Regions from separate parts of the Homo sapiens genome. Here regions 1 and 3 are each linked to region 2. The links come from fine-mapping of genetic effects on gene expression. A gene starts in region 2. Each other region holds a variant in brackets. All regions are shown on one strand. Distances are between the middles of the regions. Region 1 overlaps LOC105370686 (a long non-coding RNA gene). Region 2 holds the start of EIF5-DT (EIF5 divergent transcript). Region 3 overlaps LOC105370686 (a long non-coding RNA gene).

What was found. PIP is the estimated chance that this variant, and not a neighbour inherited with it, causes the effect.
Region 1: its variant is the best candidate, but not a certain one, in a credible set for the expression of EIF5-DT in putamen (GTEx, PIP 0.51).
Region 3: its variant is the best candidate, but not a certain one, in a credible set for the expression of EIF5-DT in anterior cingulate cortex (GTEx, PIP 0.68).

The regions. Positions count from the first base shown.
Region 1 is chr14:103,300,903-103,306,123 of GRCh38, forward strand. The region is part of intron 1 of LOC105370686 (a long non-coding RNA gene); the gene reads right to left. Among named protein-coding and RNA genes, the nearest start is that of EIF5, 31 kb to the right of the region's middle. RefSeq lists an enhancer at 944-1,444. The variant G/A (reference allele first, on the strand shown) is at 2,470.
Region 2 is chr14:103,331,915-103,337,135 of GRCh38, forward strand. It overlaps EIF5-DT (EIF5 divergent transcript), which reads right to left and starts at 2,746. Exons shown (of 1, transcript NR_158216.2): 1 at 1-2,746. It overlaps EIF5 (eukaryotic translation initiation factor 5), which reads left to right and starts at 2,323. Exons shown (of 12, transcript NM_001969.5): 1 at 2,323-2,346; 2 at 2,475-2,683; 3 at 3,739-4,018; 4 at 4,122-4,203; 5 at 4,763-4,935; 6 at 5,202-5,221. The coding sequence starts at 3,947. RefSeq lists an enhancer at 1,779-1,898 and silencers at 2,219-2,638, 2,779-2,828, 2,939-3,178.
Region 3 is chr14:103,307,425-103,312,645 of GRCh38, forward strand. All of the region lies in intron 1 of LOC105370686 (a long non-coding RNA gene), which reads right to left. Among named protein-coding and RNA genes, the nearest start is that of EIF5, 24 kb to the right of the region's middle. RefSeq lists an enhancer at 3,451-4,427. The variant C/A (reference allele first, on the strand shown) is at 3,057.

The DNA.
Region 1 (5,221 bases), 31 kb before region 2:
AGAGCCCAGCCATGCTGACCTCCAATCACACATCCTATTCACTCGCCTACTTCTGCTGCCACCTAACCAAACTTCCTGGCTTTCGGTATAAACAAATCCTTTCTAGAGAAATAAAGCATTCCTAGTTCACTTTTGAGAAAGGTGAGCCCCCTGGGGAACTGCAGTGCTGAGAAGTCTGGCGGGAAGGGCACATTCATGGGACTTGATGACAGGGAGGGACTGGCTGGATCTGCTTTGAGCACAGTCCAACCATCTTTATAGTTCATCACAACCAGCCTTTAAAATGCTTCGGGAACATCAGGATAGTGATCACCAGCAGGGCACCGAGCACAGGGCGTAAAGGGGGCTTCTGAGAGGGGGTGTGATGTTCTGTTTCCCGATGTGGGTGCCAGTTCCTCCAAAGTGGTCGGTGTATGAGTGGTCATGGGGCCACACTTAGGTACCTGCGGTTCTCTGTATGTATTTCATATTCCAATACAAAGCTCCAAAAATTGCTTCAGAAGTCAGTTAAGCTTCTCTTCCTCCAGATTCCAAACTCATATGCCAAAAGTTCATTTCTCTGCAGGCCAAAATGGAGCAGCCTTTTATAAACAGGCTTCCTAGAGTTTTGCCCCAAAATATTCCTGTATCCCAGCAGCAAGCACCCTGATGCCCACCCAGTGGTCTGTATCTGTGTCAACCAGCGGTTCTCAGCCTGGCCTCATCCAGGGCCTGAAGCCTACTACAGAACCCCCAGCAGCACGTGGGGTGCACAGCAAAGATCAGCCCTGGACACAGCCGGGTGCTCAGGGCGGGGTGAGGGGGCAGGAGGCAGGACGCAGGAGGTGAGCTGTCCGGGCGGGGCAGGATGAGGGAGTCCTGCATTGCAGAGCTAAGGGGGAGAATCATCAGCACCCTAATTAGCTCTTGATGGCTTCCAAAGCCTTTTAAGTCCTTTTTTTTTTTTTTTTTTTTTATCCCTACAAGAACTCTGAGTGGTAAACAGGACAAGTAACATAATTCCCAGGATACAGGTAAGGACACTAAAGCCCAACCCAAACTGGTGGGTAGCAAGGCCAGGCCCAAACCCAGAGCTCTGGGCTCTAAGCCAGCACCTACTCCCCAACACAGAAAGGAGGTGGGAGCAGCCGGGCCCTAGCCAACCACTCCCGGCCCCTTGGCAGATCAGGCAGAGTGAGGGCACAGGAGGGAGAGAAGACCTCTATGCAGACCAGTGCAGCCAGGCAGGGGTGAGGAGCCCCTGCCACCACCACCAAAGACAAAACTGAGCCTCGATCCAATGCAGACTCCAGGAAATATGGGGCAGGTCCATGACCTTGTGAGAAGGGAATCAGTCAAATCCAAAATGTGGGACATGTACGGGACAACTGACCCAGTTTCTTTAATGAGTCAATGGCATTAAACTAAGGAGGGGTGACAGTTCTAAATTAAAAGACACTTTCAAAGGACCTCAAGACGGCAGTGCATACCGTGAGCAGATCTTATTTAGATCCTGATTTAAGTAACTCAACTATAAAAAGACGTTTTTTTGAACAGAGCAATTTAATTTGGTACTTGGTACATTTAATGTGGCAGTTGGATATTCAATGATATTAATCTTCAATTTACCAGCAGGGTCCAGTGAGTTCTTTTTTTTTTTTTTTTTTTTTTTTTTGGAGACAGAGTTTCACTCTTGTTGCCCTGGCTGGAGCGCAGTGGCACAATCTTGGCTCACTGCAACCTCTGCCTCCCAGGTTCAAGTGATTCTCCTGCCTCAGCCTCCTGAGTAGCTGGGATTACAGGCATGCAACACCACACTCAGCTAATTTTTTTGTATTTTTAGTAGAAGTGGAGTTTCACCCTATTGGTCAGGCTGGTCTTGAACTCCTGACCTCAAGTGATCTGCCCGCCTCAGCCTCCCAAAGTGCTGGGATTATAGGCGTGAGCCACCACTCCTGGCCTATTTTTATTTTTTTAGTTTACTTTTTGAGTAGTTCTAGCACTGTATAAGGATTAATAGTTTGTGAATTTTATTCTGTCTTAGAGACCTTCTACAGAACAAAACCCATTCTGTCTTGCAATTCCTACAGGGATTGGTTCAAGCCTTTTGTAAATCTAAGATATATTTTGGAATCAGGAATCTTATTTTTCCTGTATCTTGAAATATTTTTCTATTTCATCATCCTGAGAATTATTTCATCATCACTCATTTAAGTATTTCCAGTTATGCTAAAAGAGACTAAAATAACAAAAAAATGAAAAGCTGATGCACTTGCCTAAAAAGCAGAATGAAATAAACCATCTCTGCCACAGTATCCTTCCGTTTTCTCACTACATTGCTAACAGTATTGCATCAACTTTCAAGAAGGTAGAAGATAATTCTGGAGATGACAGGCTTTCCTTTGTTTCACTCTTATTGAACAATACAATCAAGCATTCTGAATTTTTCATTTTTCACCCATAACAGCAAGGAGAAGAAAGTTGACTGAG[G/A]GAGACATTCATAATTATAGGCAATTAGAAGCGGGGGAAGGCCCAACACAGTGGCTCATGCCTGTAATTCCAGCACTTTGGGAGGCTGAGGTGGGCGGATCACTTGAGGCCAGGAGTTTGAGACCAGCCTGGCCAACATGGCCAAACCCATCTCTACTTAAAATACAAAAATGAGCCAGGCGTGATGGTGAATGCCTGTAATCCCAGCTACTTGGGAGGCTGAGGTGGGAGGATTGCTTGAACCTGGGAGGCAGAGGTTGTGGTGAGCTGAAATCACACCACTGCACTCCAGCCTAGGAGACACAGCAAGCCTCCATCTCAAAAAAAAAGAAAGAAAAGAAGAAGAAGAAGAAGAAGCAGCTAGGGGAAGGCCAAGCTCCATGGCTCAGGCCTGTAATCCAGCACTTTGGGAGGCTGGGGTGGGTGGGTTGCTTGAGCCTAGGAGTTCGAGACCAGCCTGGGCAACATGACAAAACCCCACCTCAAAAAAAAAAAAAAAAGAAAGAAAGGAAGGAAGAAAGGAAGGAAGGAAAAGAAAAATTGTCCAGGTGTGGTGGTGCATGCCTGTAGTCCCAGATACTCCAGAGGCTGAGGTGGGAGGATTGCCTGAGCCTGGGAGCTAGAGGCTACAGTGAGCTATGATCACACCACTGCACTCCAGCCTGGGTGACAGAGCAAGACCCTGTCTCTTTAAAAGAAAAAAATATATATATATATGGTAGAAGGGACAGACAGCCACTCTGTCCCATTAGCCAGAGGCTAATGATGATGGTGAAATCAATCAAATGGGATAAATTTCAGTGAGCATTCAGATGACCATATCCCAGACAAATTTTCTCAAATCCATATTTCTAATGACACAAAAAATTTGCATTCAATTAACAGGCAAGACTTCACTCAATATTTTGTAATAAGAACTTGGACCACTGCATTTTTTCTAAAAGGATGTATGATGGTATACTTTCACATTTTTTGATGTTTGTGAACAAAATGGGATACATTTCATAAGTGGACAAATGCCAAAAGCAGGTGTTTATACAAAGATACTGAGAGGAAATAGATAATGCAAAATTTTAAATTAATTGATCATTCTAATGGGTGTTTATAGATCAAAAAATGAAAATGTTTTGCAATCATGGAACAAAGAAAATGGCCACACTGTCTCCAACAAAATTGTAAGTGTCAACGATTTCAAAAAGTTCATCCAAATATCACATTTTGACAACATCAGTGCAAGAAGAAGGAAAAGTAATGTTAGCTTAGACACCCCTAGAAGTGCAGTTGAAACCTGGAATTAGCACTTTTAAGGTGGATGAGTTCCAGGCTCATGCAAGGCAGGTGATAAGTAGCCAGTTGCATTCAAAGGATGCTACCAATATACCTTCAAAATCACAAACATGGAATAAAAAGTTCAGTTTGCTATGTCTTCATTCTAAAATGTCTAATGAAGTTGTATTTCACCATCCCTTTATTCTTACTTCTGCAAATGACCAACAGGGACGCCTCAGAGATACTGCAGGTTCTGTTCCAGACCACTCAATAAAGCTAATACTACAAGAAAGTGAGTCACAGTTTCCCAGTGCATATAGAAGTTATGCTTACGTTATAGTATAGTCTATTTATAGTCTATTAAGTGTGCAATAGCATTGTGTCTAAAAAAACAAAGTACATACCTTAATTTAAATATTTTTATTTCTGGCTGGGTGCAGTGGCTCACACCTATAATCCCAGCATTTTGAGAGGCTGAGGCAGGAGGATCATTTGAGGCCAGGAGTTTGAGACCAGCCTGGCAACACAGAGAGATCACATCTTTATATATATATATATAATTGCTAAAAAACATGCAGACAATCACATGAACATTCAGTGAGTGGTAATCATCTTGCCGGTGGGGGTCTTGGCTCAATGTTGATGGCTGCTGACTGATCAGGGTGGTGGCTGCTGAAGGTTGGGGTGGCCATGGCAATTTCTTAAAATAAGACAGCAACGAAGTTGGCTGCATAAAGTGACTCTTCCTTTCATAAAAAAATTTCTCTGCAGCATACAATGCTGTTCGATAGCATTTTATCCACCGTAGAACTTCTTTGAAAATTGGAGTCCATTCTCTCATACCCTGCCACTGCTTTATCAACTGAATTTATGTAATATCCTAAATCCTGTGCAGTCATTTCAACAATGTTCACAGCATCATCACTAGGAGTAGTTTCCATCTAAAGAAACCACTCTCTTCGCTCATTCATAAGAAGCAACTCCTCATCTGTTCAAAGTTTTCTCATGAGATTATAGCAATTCAGTCACATCCTCAGGCGTCATTTCTAATTCCAGTTCTCTTGCTATTTCCACCACATCTACAGCTCTTTCCTCCACTGAAGTCTCAAACCCCTCAAAGTCATCCATGAGGTTGGAATCAACTTCTTCCAAACTTTTGTCAATGTTGGCTGGGCGCAGTGGCTCATGCCTATAATCCCAGCATTACAGGAGGCCGAGGTAGGTGGATCACTTGAGCTCAGGGGTTCGAGACCAGCCCAGCCAAAAAATACAGAAATACAAAAATTAGCCAGGTGTGATGATAGGCACCTGTAGCTACTCGGGATGCTGAGCTTGGAGAATCATTTGAGCCAGGGAGGAGGAGGTTGCAGTGAACTGAGATTGCGCTGTTGCACTCCAGCATAGGCAATGGGAATGAAACCCTGTCTCAAACAAAACAAACAAACAAACAAACAAAAAACCCAATCAAACTCTTGTCAATGTT
Region 2 (5,221 bases):
CATTACACGTTGTATACATGTACTGAAATATCACTTTGTATCCCACAAATGTGTTATTATGTATTAACTAAAAATAAAAGGGAGAAAAAGAACACAAAAGTATTTTTTTAAGTTGTCCATGGTTGCATACAAATGAGTGGTACACATATTAAAAAGCAGTTAAAATTATTACAAACTTCAACGAAATTAAAAATTGTGCCACTAAACATACAAAAAAGCTAATTACTTCGTGTTTCATTAAAACTTTTCTGAAAAGGCAGGCCTCTCACCTCAGACTAGTTTCATGCCTATACTTTCCAACAGAGTTTCTAAAATAACATCATTTTTGTGCTGCCAAGCAAAAAGTCAGATCTGTTTCAATACTGCTAAGTCATGCTCCACAGTGAAACAGCAGCAGCATGTCTGGGATCCCCTTTTCTAGTTTGTCTGATGGGAACCCTGGTACTCACAAGGCACTGTGCACTTGGCTTAACAACTATACACCAAGGTACACACTGCGGGATTATAAAAGTCCCTGCCCTAAAGGACACAAATCACCTCTCAATTCTGGATTGTGCCTTTATTTCTTCCTACCAACACTGCCAATTTTTAAGTTGTTTATAAAGCTTTTAGTTATGGAAGCACGATCTTGGATTTTGATATAAAAATCAACATAGCTGCCAATTCTAACCTCAGTGCAAATGCAACTGGTCCAAAACAAAGGGCAGCCCCTTATCTACCTCATCCTGTCCTCAGCAACATTTCTCTTTTCCAGATCGGGAAACCTGCACGGCCGCTCAGGACTTCTCGATGACTGCACCTTAGAGACCAGAGTGCAGGTTAGCGGGGCTCTCGCTCCATCAGTCAAGTGAGGTCTTCAAACTTCAGGGTGAACTATGGATGTGTTTTTAAGACTCAAGTTTTCACAAAAAAAATCCAAGTTTCAGAAAGAATGGGAGAGTTTCAACAGAACTAAAATATGAGAGCCTCTCTCTAAATAATAAAAATTTTCTTTTTTTTTTTTTTTGGAGACAGTCTCGCTCTGTTGTCCAGGCTGGAGTGCAGTGGTGTGATCTCGGCTCACTGTAACCTGTGCCTCCCGGGTTCAAGGATTCTCCTGCCTCAGCCTCCCGAGTAGCTGGGATTACAAGCGAGCCACCACGCCCAGCTAATTTTTTGTATTTTTAGTAGAGACAGGGTTCCACCATATTGGCCAGGCTGGTCTCAAATTCCCGACCTCAGGTGATCCGCCCACCTCAGCCTCCCAAAGTGCTGGGATTACAGACGTGAGCCACCGCGACCGGCCTAAATAATAGTAATTTTCAACGGAATACATTGGAATCTCATTATAAATGCCTGCTCTGGGCTACGATTTGCTTATCAAAGAATTCACAAGTCATAAACTAGAGGGGGTGGACTCGACGTGATGCCCACTAGGAGAAAGGTGACAAGAGAAGCACGAAGGATAGCGCTTTTCAACCCTGGGAGAGCAGGGAGGCCTTCACCAGAAGGTGGGAACCCACCACGAAGCGCCTTCAGGAGGCCCCAGGATTCCAAACCAATTAAGGGCCTCCTCTTCCGAAAACGGGAGGCGACGCGCTGAGCTAAGCGCGCAGGCTGGGTTGCGGGCCGACACCGAGGCGGCGCGGCCTCGCGACCGCCCTGGGCGGTCACTGGCGAGTCACGGACTCGTTCCGCCAGCGGCCAATCCACCCCGAGTCCGAAACAGAAGACGTCCCTGGGATGAAAGACCCAGGCCTGGGGCTTAAGGTGGAAAAACAACTCATTCCTCGAGGCCCGGAGTCGGGCGTCCCGGGAGAACGGGAAAGGGAGATGAGCGCCCGCTGCGGGGAGAACGCGGTCGGGTTCCTCTCCCCGAAGGTGGCAGCCGCAAAAACACGGCCTCGAAAGCAGTTTCGAGGACGATGGCTCCTGCGTCCCGGGAGTCGCCATGACGCCGCGGCCTGTCCCAGACCCGGCGAGGGAGGGGACCAACCACCATCTCCCCCTCAAGGCCCAAACCGACAAAGAACGGCCCCCGGTACCCCGGCCCCGCCACCAGGGCCACTCCGGGTCTCGCGAGACCCAAGGGCTGCGCCGCGAAGACCTCTGGGAAAGGCGGGGGGAGGGGAGAGGAAGGAAGCGAGACCGGGGCTGGAGGCGGGCCGAGGCCGCGAGTTGAGCCTCAGGAAGCAGAAGGGGCGCGGAAAGATGCGATTGACGTCGCAAGCGAACCAATGACGAGCGAGCTGTGGCAGGCCTCCAGCCAATGGGCAGTGAGGCCTGACGCGGGGGGCGGACGCTGGGGCCGAGGGTAGCTTGAGCGCGGCGGCGGCGTTGTTCAGTCAGAGCGAGAACATTCCAGAGGTGAGTCCGGTGAAGGGGCGGCCCCCTGCCCGGTGCTTCCCGCCCCCTCGACCCCTCGGGCCGCTGGCTGGCGGGGAAGGTGCACTCCCCGACCGCCCACGGCTCACGGCGCCGTCTCTCCGCGCCAGGTCGCCCAGCTCCGGCGCTGACGGGTGTGGACCGCGGACGTCGCTGGGACAGCCCCTCCCCGCTGCTCGGCGGCGGCACCTGGCCCGGCCGCTCCTCGCTGCGCTTCGCCTCCGCCTCCTCGGACTCGGACTCGGGTTTATATCGCGCCTCACTTCATCCCAGTCCCGGGCGAGCAGCGTTGGGTTTATGTCTTTATTTGACGAAAACGGTGAGTCGCGGGCGCGGCGGGCCAGGAGATGGCGGCCGCACAAGATGGCGGCGGCCGCCGCGTGACCCCGCCGCGGCGTGTGGCGCAGTTTGGGCGGACGGCGGGCGGGCGCGGGCCCGGGCGCCGGCCGCCCCCTCCCCGCGCGCTCCCCGGCCCGGCCTCGCCCCCTCCCCGGCATGGCGGGAGCGCGTCGCGCGTGCCCGCCGCTCGGGCTGACTCAGGCTTCAGCTGCTGCATTTGTGAGTCATCGCGCGCTCTGGGGCGGGGGCGGCCCGATCCCGGCACCCCTCGGCCGTGTGTCGCTTCCCGGCTGTGCACCCTCCGGGGCCGCCGGCTCTCGGGGGACGCGCTGGGGATGGGGCCAGACGCCCCGGTCGCGCGCCCCCCTCCTTCGCGGAGCTGCCCGGTTCGCCAGCCCCCGCGGAAACGCCTCGGAGCGCGGTAGCCATGGGGACCAGGGCGAAGGTTAACCGAGTATTTGAATAGCGAGGAAAAGGGAGGCCGGGGCGAGCCTGGCGTTCGCTCGCGCTCTCTTGCTTAATGGCAAATTGTGGGCGAGCGCTGCGTTTAAGGAAGTGCTGCTTTGAAGTAAGCCATGGTTGCCGAAGCAACGATTAGTTGTAGAGAACAGTTCCCTAGGTTGCCCTTAAAAATGAAGACGAACGGGGGTGTGCCTGAGAAGTTTGCTTATCCAGGCGGGGTGGGCGGCGGAGAGGGCTCGGGTTCGTTCTTCAGCACTTCCAGGATGGCCGCAGAGGCAAACCTGCTGATTGCCCTCGGTCTGATGGAATCTCACGGCGGCTGAGGCAGCACAGCTTGTGTTTTCTTGTCAGGCATTTCCCTACCAGTCACAGCTTAGTCGAAATGGAGGCCTTTTTATGTTCCCGCAGATTGTACTGTGTTACATGAGAATGGCTGTTTGCATGTGATCTCAGATGCTTTTTAAGGTGGAGTTAAGCAGAAGCATAACTAGGATGTAAAAAGGAGGCGTTTCCATCCAGCGATGATGTTAAACCTGGGGGGATTTTTGTGTGTTCTTTCCCTTTTTCTTTCAGAGCTGTTGCGCAGCCATTGGTACCTGTATTGGGGAAACATAGCATACAAGCAAGAAGCTTACAGCCTCAGTGGCGAAAATTTTTTCATGTCAGAGACCGAGAACTCTTGCAGTCGTTTATGTCATCCCTTCTTCTCCAGACAGAAGATACCAAAAAGTTGCAATCAAAGATCTCTTCATCTTATTGATAAAGCCACTAATAAGCCAAAATGTCTGTCAATGTCAACCGCAGCGTGTCAGACCAGTTCTATCGCTACAAGATGCCCCGTCTGATTGCCAAGGTAATAAACTGCTCTTCAATTTAGTTGATAGCTCTTTTTGTAGAATTTTGAAGTTTGCATTTGTCAGGGGAAACTGCACAACTAAAATTCTTATTTCCTTTAGGTTGAGGGCAAAGGCAATGGAATCAAGACAGTTATAGTCAACATGGTTGACGTTGCAAAGGCGCTTAATCGGCCTCCAACGTGTAAGTAAAGCTTGGAAAAGTCCACAGGGCATATTATGGATAGAGTCTTCAAAGTCTTTGAGCTGCAAAACTTGTTCTAATTGTATGCTAGCTAATTACCTTACAAGTTAAGTGAGGAACCGTGGTTTATTGGTTGCCATGAGTTTACAAAACTACCAGGGGAACGCATTTAAAGAGTGGATGGCTGGGCGCGTTGGCTCACACCTGTAACCCCCAGCACTTTGGAAGGCTGAGGCAAGCGGATCGCGAGGTCAGGAGTTCTAGACCAGCCTAGCCAACATAGTGAAATCCTGAGTCTACTACTAATACAAAAATTAGCCAGGCGTGGTGGCATGCGCTTGTAGTCCCAGCTACTTGGGAGGCTGAAGGGGGAGAATCGCTTGAACCCCGGAAACGGAGGTTGCAGTGAGCTGAGACCACGCCGTTGCACTCCAGCCTGGGTGACAGAGTGAGACTCTTGTCTCAAAAAAAAAAAAAAAGTGGTGTTCGTACAAATGTGAGTGAGTAGCCAGAGATCTAGTTAACTGTAACGATCCAAACTCCTTTTTCATTCAAATAGATCCCACCAAATATTTTGGTTGTGAGCTGGGAGCACAGACCCAGTTTGATGTTAAGAATGACCGTTACATTGTCAATGGATCTCATGAGGCGAATAAGCTGCAAGACATGTTGGATGGATTCATTAAAAAATTTGTTCTCTGTCCTGAATGTGAGAATCCTGAAACAGATTTGGTAAGTGCTTTTGTGGTTGTCGAAAGAAAAAGCCATATACCTGCTTCTGTGATACCGCTAAGTCACCTTCCTGAGAAGGCAGAGCAAATGTAATTTTAAATCAAACACAAAACTCCAGTTTTCGAGATATTTCCATTCTTTTTTTTAAAGTAGGTCACTGTGTGAAAAAAGTTTTCTTTGCATGTGAAGCTGTCTGTGGTTTAGATGTCCTCTGATTAGATATTTTCATGTTATATTATGGATAACATTTGTTATTTTTTTGGCAGCATGTCAATCCAAAGAAGCA
Region 3 (5,221 bases), 24 kb before region 2:
TGCTCTGGATGAGGCTTTGGCTTAAGGGAATGTTGTGTTTGGTTTGATCTATCCAGACTCCAACTCCCTCCATAGCAGCAGTGAGGGTGTTTCACTTTCTCATCATCCATGTGTTCACCGGAGTAGCACATTTAAATTTCCTTCAAGAACTATTCCTTTGTGTTCACAACTTGGCTGTCTGTCGCAAGAGACCTAGCTTTTGGCCTATCTTGGCTTAAGGAGGCCTGAGGAGTTGGAGAGAGATGGGGGAGCGGCCGGTCTGAGGAGCACTCAGAACACACAACGTTTATCCATTAAGTTCACTATCTCAGAAGAACACGGTTTGTGGTCCCCCAAAACAGTGATGATGGTAACATCACAGATCATCGTAACAGATATAATTCTAATGAAAAAGTTGGAAATACTGTAAGAATTAGCAAAACGTGACAAGACAGACATGAAGTGAGCACATGTTGTTGGGGAAAAAATGATAGATTTGCTCACAGACCTTGAATTTGTTTAAACATTAAAACAATATCTGCAAGATGCAATTAAGTGAAATGCAATCAAATGAGGTTTGCCTGTATTTCTAAAATGACTTAAACGTTGAAAATGTAAAGGGTCCTTTGGACCCACAGAGCCAGTGGTGACGCTGAGGGGGAAGCAATTGCTGTCGATGCTGTAAGGTGTAACAGGGGCCCTTTAGTTACTTAAGAAAATGACCTTGGCCAGGCGTGGTGGCTCATGCCTGTAATCCTAGCACTTTGGGAGGCTGAGGCAGGAAGATCCCTGGAGTCCAGGAGTATGAGACCAGCTTGGGCAACATAGGGAGGCCCTGTCTCTTAAAAAGAAAGAGAGGAAAGAAGGAAGGAAGGAAGGAAAGGAGGGAGGGAGGGAGAGAGAGAGAGAAGGAAAGAAAGAAAGAAAGAAAGAGAGAGAGAGAGAGAAAGAAAGAAAGAAAGAAAGAAAGAAAGAAAGAAAGAAAGAAAGAAAGAAAGAAAGGGAAAATGACCTTCTTTGGGCTGGGCGTGGTGGCTCATGCCTGTAATCTCAGGACTTTGGAAGGCCGAGGTGGGAGGATTGTTTGACCTCAGGAGTTTGAAACCAGCCTGGGCAACATAGCAAAACCTTGTCTCTACTAATAATACAAAAATTAGCGAAGCACAGTGGCAAGTGCCTGTAGTCGCAGCTACACAAGAGGCTGAGGTGGAAGGATCACTTAAGACTGGGAGGTAGAGGCTGCAATGAGCCATGATCATGCCACCATGCTCCAGCCTCAGTGACAGAGTAAGATCCTCTCTTGAAAGAAAAAGAGAGAGAGAAAGAAAGAGGAAGGGAGGAAGGGAGGGAGGAAGGGAGGGAGGGAAGGAGGGAGGGAAGGAGGGAAGGAAGGAAGGAAGGAGAGAGAGAGAGAGAGAAAGAAAGAAAGAAGAAAGAGAGAGAAAGAAAGAAGAGAGAGAGAAAGAACAGAAAGAAAAGAGAAAGAAAGAAAGAAGAAAGAAAGAAAAAAGAAAGAAGAAAGAAAAAAGAGAGAAAGAGGAAGGGAGGGAGGAAGGGAAGGAAGGAAAGAAGGAAGGAAGGAAAGAAGGAAGGAAGGAAAGAAGGAAGGAAGGAAGGAAGGAAGGAAGGAAGGAAGGAAGGAAGGAAGGAGGGAAGGAAAATAAATGACCAGGATGCTTTGTTGAGATGCTGGGCAAAGCGAGGGTGGCTGGCAAGGCCGAGTGGTTGCCGTGAGTGCTGCTGTTTGCTCTGCTCCTGTGAATGTCGGACCTCTCCATAATACTTTTCTTCAGAAACGAGAACAGGAGAATGCTTCAGCAATGCAGCTGTCACTCTGCACAACTGGGAGTGCAAATGACATGCCCTAGTCAGGCCCTGGCATGGAACGTGTCCACCTCCACACTGGGAATAGCAGAAGCCCCACCGGCCGGTCTATCCTGGCTGCCCCAGAGCCTGAGACCCAGTCCTAGCCCAGCAGGTGGTCCAGAGGGAGAGGAGCTCAGGCCCCCAGGGAGGCTCCAAGGCGGGTCTTATCAACACCACTCAGTCAACCGGCCTTGAGAAGGTCAGTCTGAGGGTAGATGGAATCCCAGCTCCTGTCCATCAAGGCACAGGCCTTGATCTTAGGACAACTACTGGTGGGGGGCTGTTCCCTCCCCAGCACAGCAGCTGACAAATGGGGATCCCAGCAAAAACTGCCAGAATCCCTGAAGTTAAAGCTCCATCAGTGCCATGTTTTTGGGTACCTCCTTCCCCAGGCAATGGCAGCAGAAAAGTTTGTGAGAAACCAAGGCTGGCAGGTGCCCAAGAAGGCCAAGAGTGGATGCCATAGGAAGGCTGGGGAAGCCATGGAAGGCACTGCCTTCTCTGCCAGGCCACCACAGTGGTCCCCAGGGCCAGGCTTGATGACAGGCCCCTACATGCCCTTACCCAGCTCCAGCCAGGGTGCCGGGGGGTCAGGCAACCCATCCAGGCCGGTCTCCTTCACAGCTCTGCCCAGAGTCTCTCCAAGATGTGCAGCTGCTTTCTAAGCTGAAACGTCTCCTGGTCCAGTGGGGCCCACTAGCACAACCAGCTCGTCCTGGTTTTAGCAGCGAAAGCCCTGTGTGCTCATCCTGGGGCCTGCTTGCCCATCATTTAAATAACCAAGGAAGGCTGGGTGTGGTGGCTCACGCCTGTAATCCCAGCACTTTGGGAGGCCAAGGTGGGCGGGTCACTTGAGGTCAGGAGTTTGAGACCAGCCTGGGCAACATGGTGAAACCCCATCTCTACTAAAAATACAAAAATTAGCCTGGTGTGGTGCTGCACGCCTGTAATCCCAGCTATTTGGGAGGCTGAGGCACGAGAATCGCTTAAACCCAGGAGATAAAGGTTGCAGTGAGCCGAGATCACACCACTGCACTCCAGCCTGGGTGACAGAGTGAGACCCTGTCTCAAATAAATAAATAAATAGATAAATAGATAAATAAATAAATAAATAACCAAGGGAGGCTGACCCAAGCAATTCTTCCCAACATTCTTCTAGCCTTTCCTGATCACTCTTGAAAACTGCTGGAAAATTCTCTACCTTAAGAACG[C/A]TGGGAAAATCTATCTCCACACTCCCCCTGCCCCATACATACCCACATATGGATGGAGCCTCTCTGAAGGCTTCTCAAGCTTTTGACTGTGACCCCACTATAAGAAATAGGTTTACATTATTGCCCAGTGCGCACACACAAGTACACACACACATGCACACACTCAGGAGTCATAATAGTAAGTACTTAGAGACAATGATAACAGAGACAGGTTGGAGTCAAATAACCAACCCTTCTCACCAGGGACCCAGGAATAGATGCGGCAGCCCCTCGCCGCAGCCTCCGCCTGGGGACAGCTTTTCTGGGGGAAGGCCTCAGGGCAGAATGCAGCCTCCACCTTCCCAGGGCTCAGCTTGGGGGTCAGTGGGAAAAGTCAGAAAGCAAAGATGCAGGGCCAGCCTCTATTCCCCAATCAGGAAGAAACACCGAGAGGGAGAAGCCTCTGCCCGAGACAGGAGGCCCCGGCTGTTTTGTGGGCTGTGCCAGGAGCATCCGGTTTCCAGCCTTGGTTCCCAGGAGTGGTTTCTCCTCCCAGGGCCCCTCTGGCCTCATCTACAAAATAACCTGCAACACCGTGGCACCACTAAGCGCTGTCTTCAGATTCGGAGAGTTTACAAAGATCGTTCTCTCCCTCACTTATTCTACAAATCTTTGTTATGTTACCCAAAAACATCAGACACTGAGCCAAGCACTAGAGCTTAAAAAGACAAAGAAGTCACAGTCCCAGAGCCCACAGAGTCTCAGAGCCCAGCCCAGAGGCACGGGCTCCCCGACCCAACACGCTGCACACGGATCCATATGTGCGCCTGTGTGTTGGGGACGGGGGTGTGGGCAGGGCACAGAGCTGCTCATGGTGGCCAGGTCCCCTGTGCTACAAGTAAGGCAGCTCCTGCCATTGCCACCTCGTCCTCTAGAGAAGCCTTTCCACGAGCCACGCTGTGGTGTTGCCTTTTCCCCGGATGGTCCACGGAGGTTGCAATGCTCAATTAACACGCTCTGAGAATGGAAGTGACAGTGTAGCACAAAGCAGAGGTGACACGCGTGAGCTCACGGCCGGGTCCCCTCCAGCGTCCACCCCCCAAGAAGTCCCCCGCTGTCTGGGCCACCAGTTTCATTCAGCAAATACTATTCTATAAACAGCTGACCCAGATTCTCCGCTTGAATTAGGACGTTTCCCAGGCAGTTGAGGATGTACAGGGATGAATTTCAATGTTGCTTAAAAGCATTAAAGCTTGAAGGCACACTCAGGCCACTCTTCCATGGGGACAATGCTGCTGGCACCATCCGAAGGCCACAGCCCCCAGGCAGCCAGGACCCTCCCAGCGCCTCTCTCGCTCAGGGTTGACTCAAGGAACCTCTGCGGAAAGAGGCGTTTTAAACTTTAATTAACCTACGTTCTTCCCTACGCCTCGTGACCTGACTTTCCATCCTCTCTCCAAAGGGACCTGCAGCAGCAATACAGTCACATTCCATTTTAACCCCAACGCCCGTCAAACGTGGCTTGGCCCCCAGAGCAAAAGACAGGAGCATCAGCAAGTAGGGAGGAAGCGGGGACAGACGCACAGGCCAGGGCCACAATCCCCTTGACCCTCCATGCATCCTCACGGAGGCAAGGTGAGGGAGAGGTCCAGCTGTTCACGCTGGGGGAGTGTGGAGGCTGTGAGAATGCACCTCCCTCACCCCCCACAGCCCCAGGAAGTGTCATCGGCCCTGGTCCCAGGTGCTGGGCTCTGAAATCCATGTTCCCCCAGGCTGCTCCCAGCCAGTGGTCTGGCACGGCAAGGGTACCGAGGCAGGCCCATTCCCAGGGGACAGGAGATTTGCCAATGGCCCTGTGGGCCCTTTCCTCAGGGCCGGACCTGCAGCACAGATCCATAGCCCTCCCCAGCTCCTTCTAGGAGGGCCCAGGTTAACAAACAGACCAGCCACCGACACCACAGCTCATGCCGCCGCCATTCCTCACCCAGTGGTGGCACAGGCGTCCCAGCTGGCAGCCCCTGACACCCTGGCCCCCAGGCTCCATCCTCCATGCAGCGACCAGACCAACCCTTCGAAAACATGAATATGAGGCCAGGTGTGGTGTAATCCCAGCACTTTGGGAGGCCAAAGTGGGAGGAGAGCTTGAGCCCAGGAGTTTGAGATCAACCTAGGCAACCAGAGTGAGA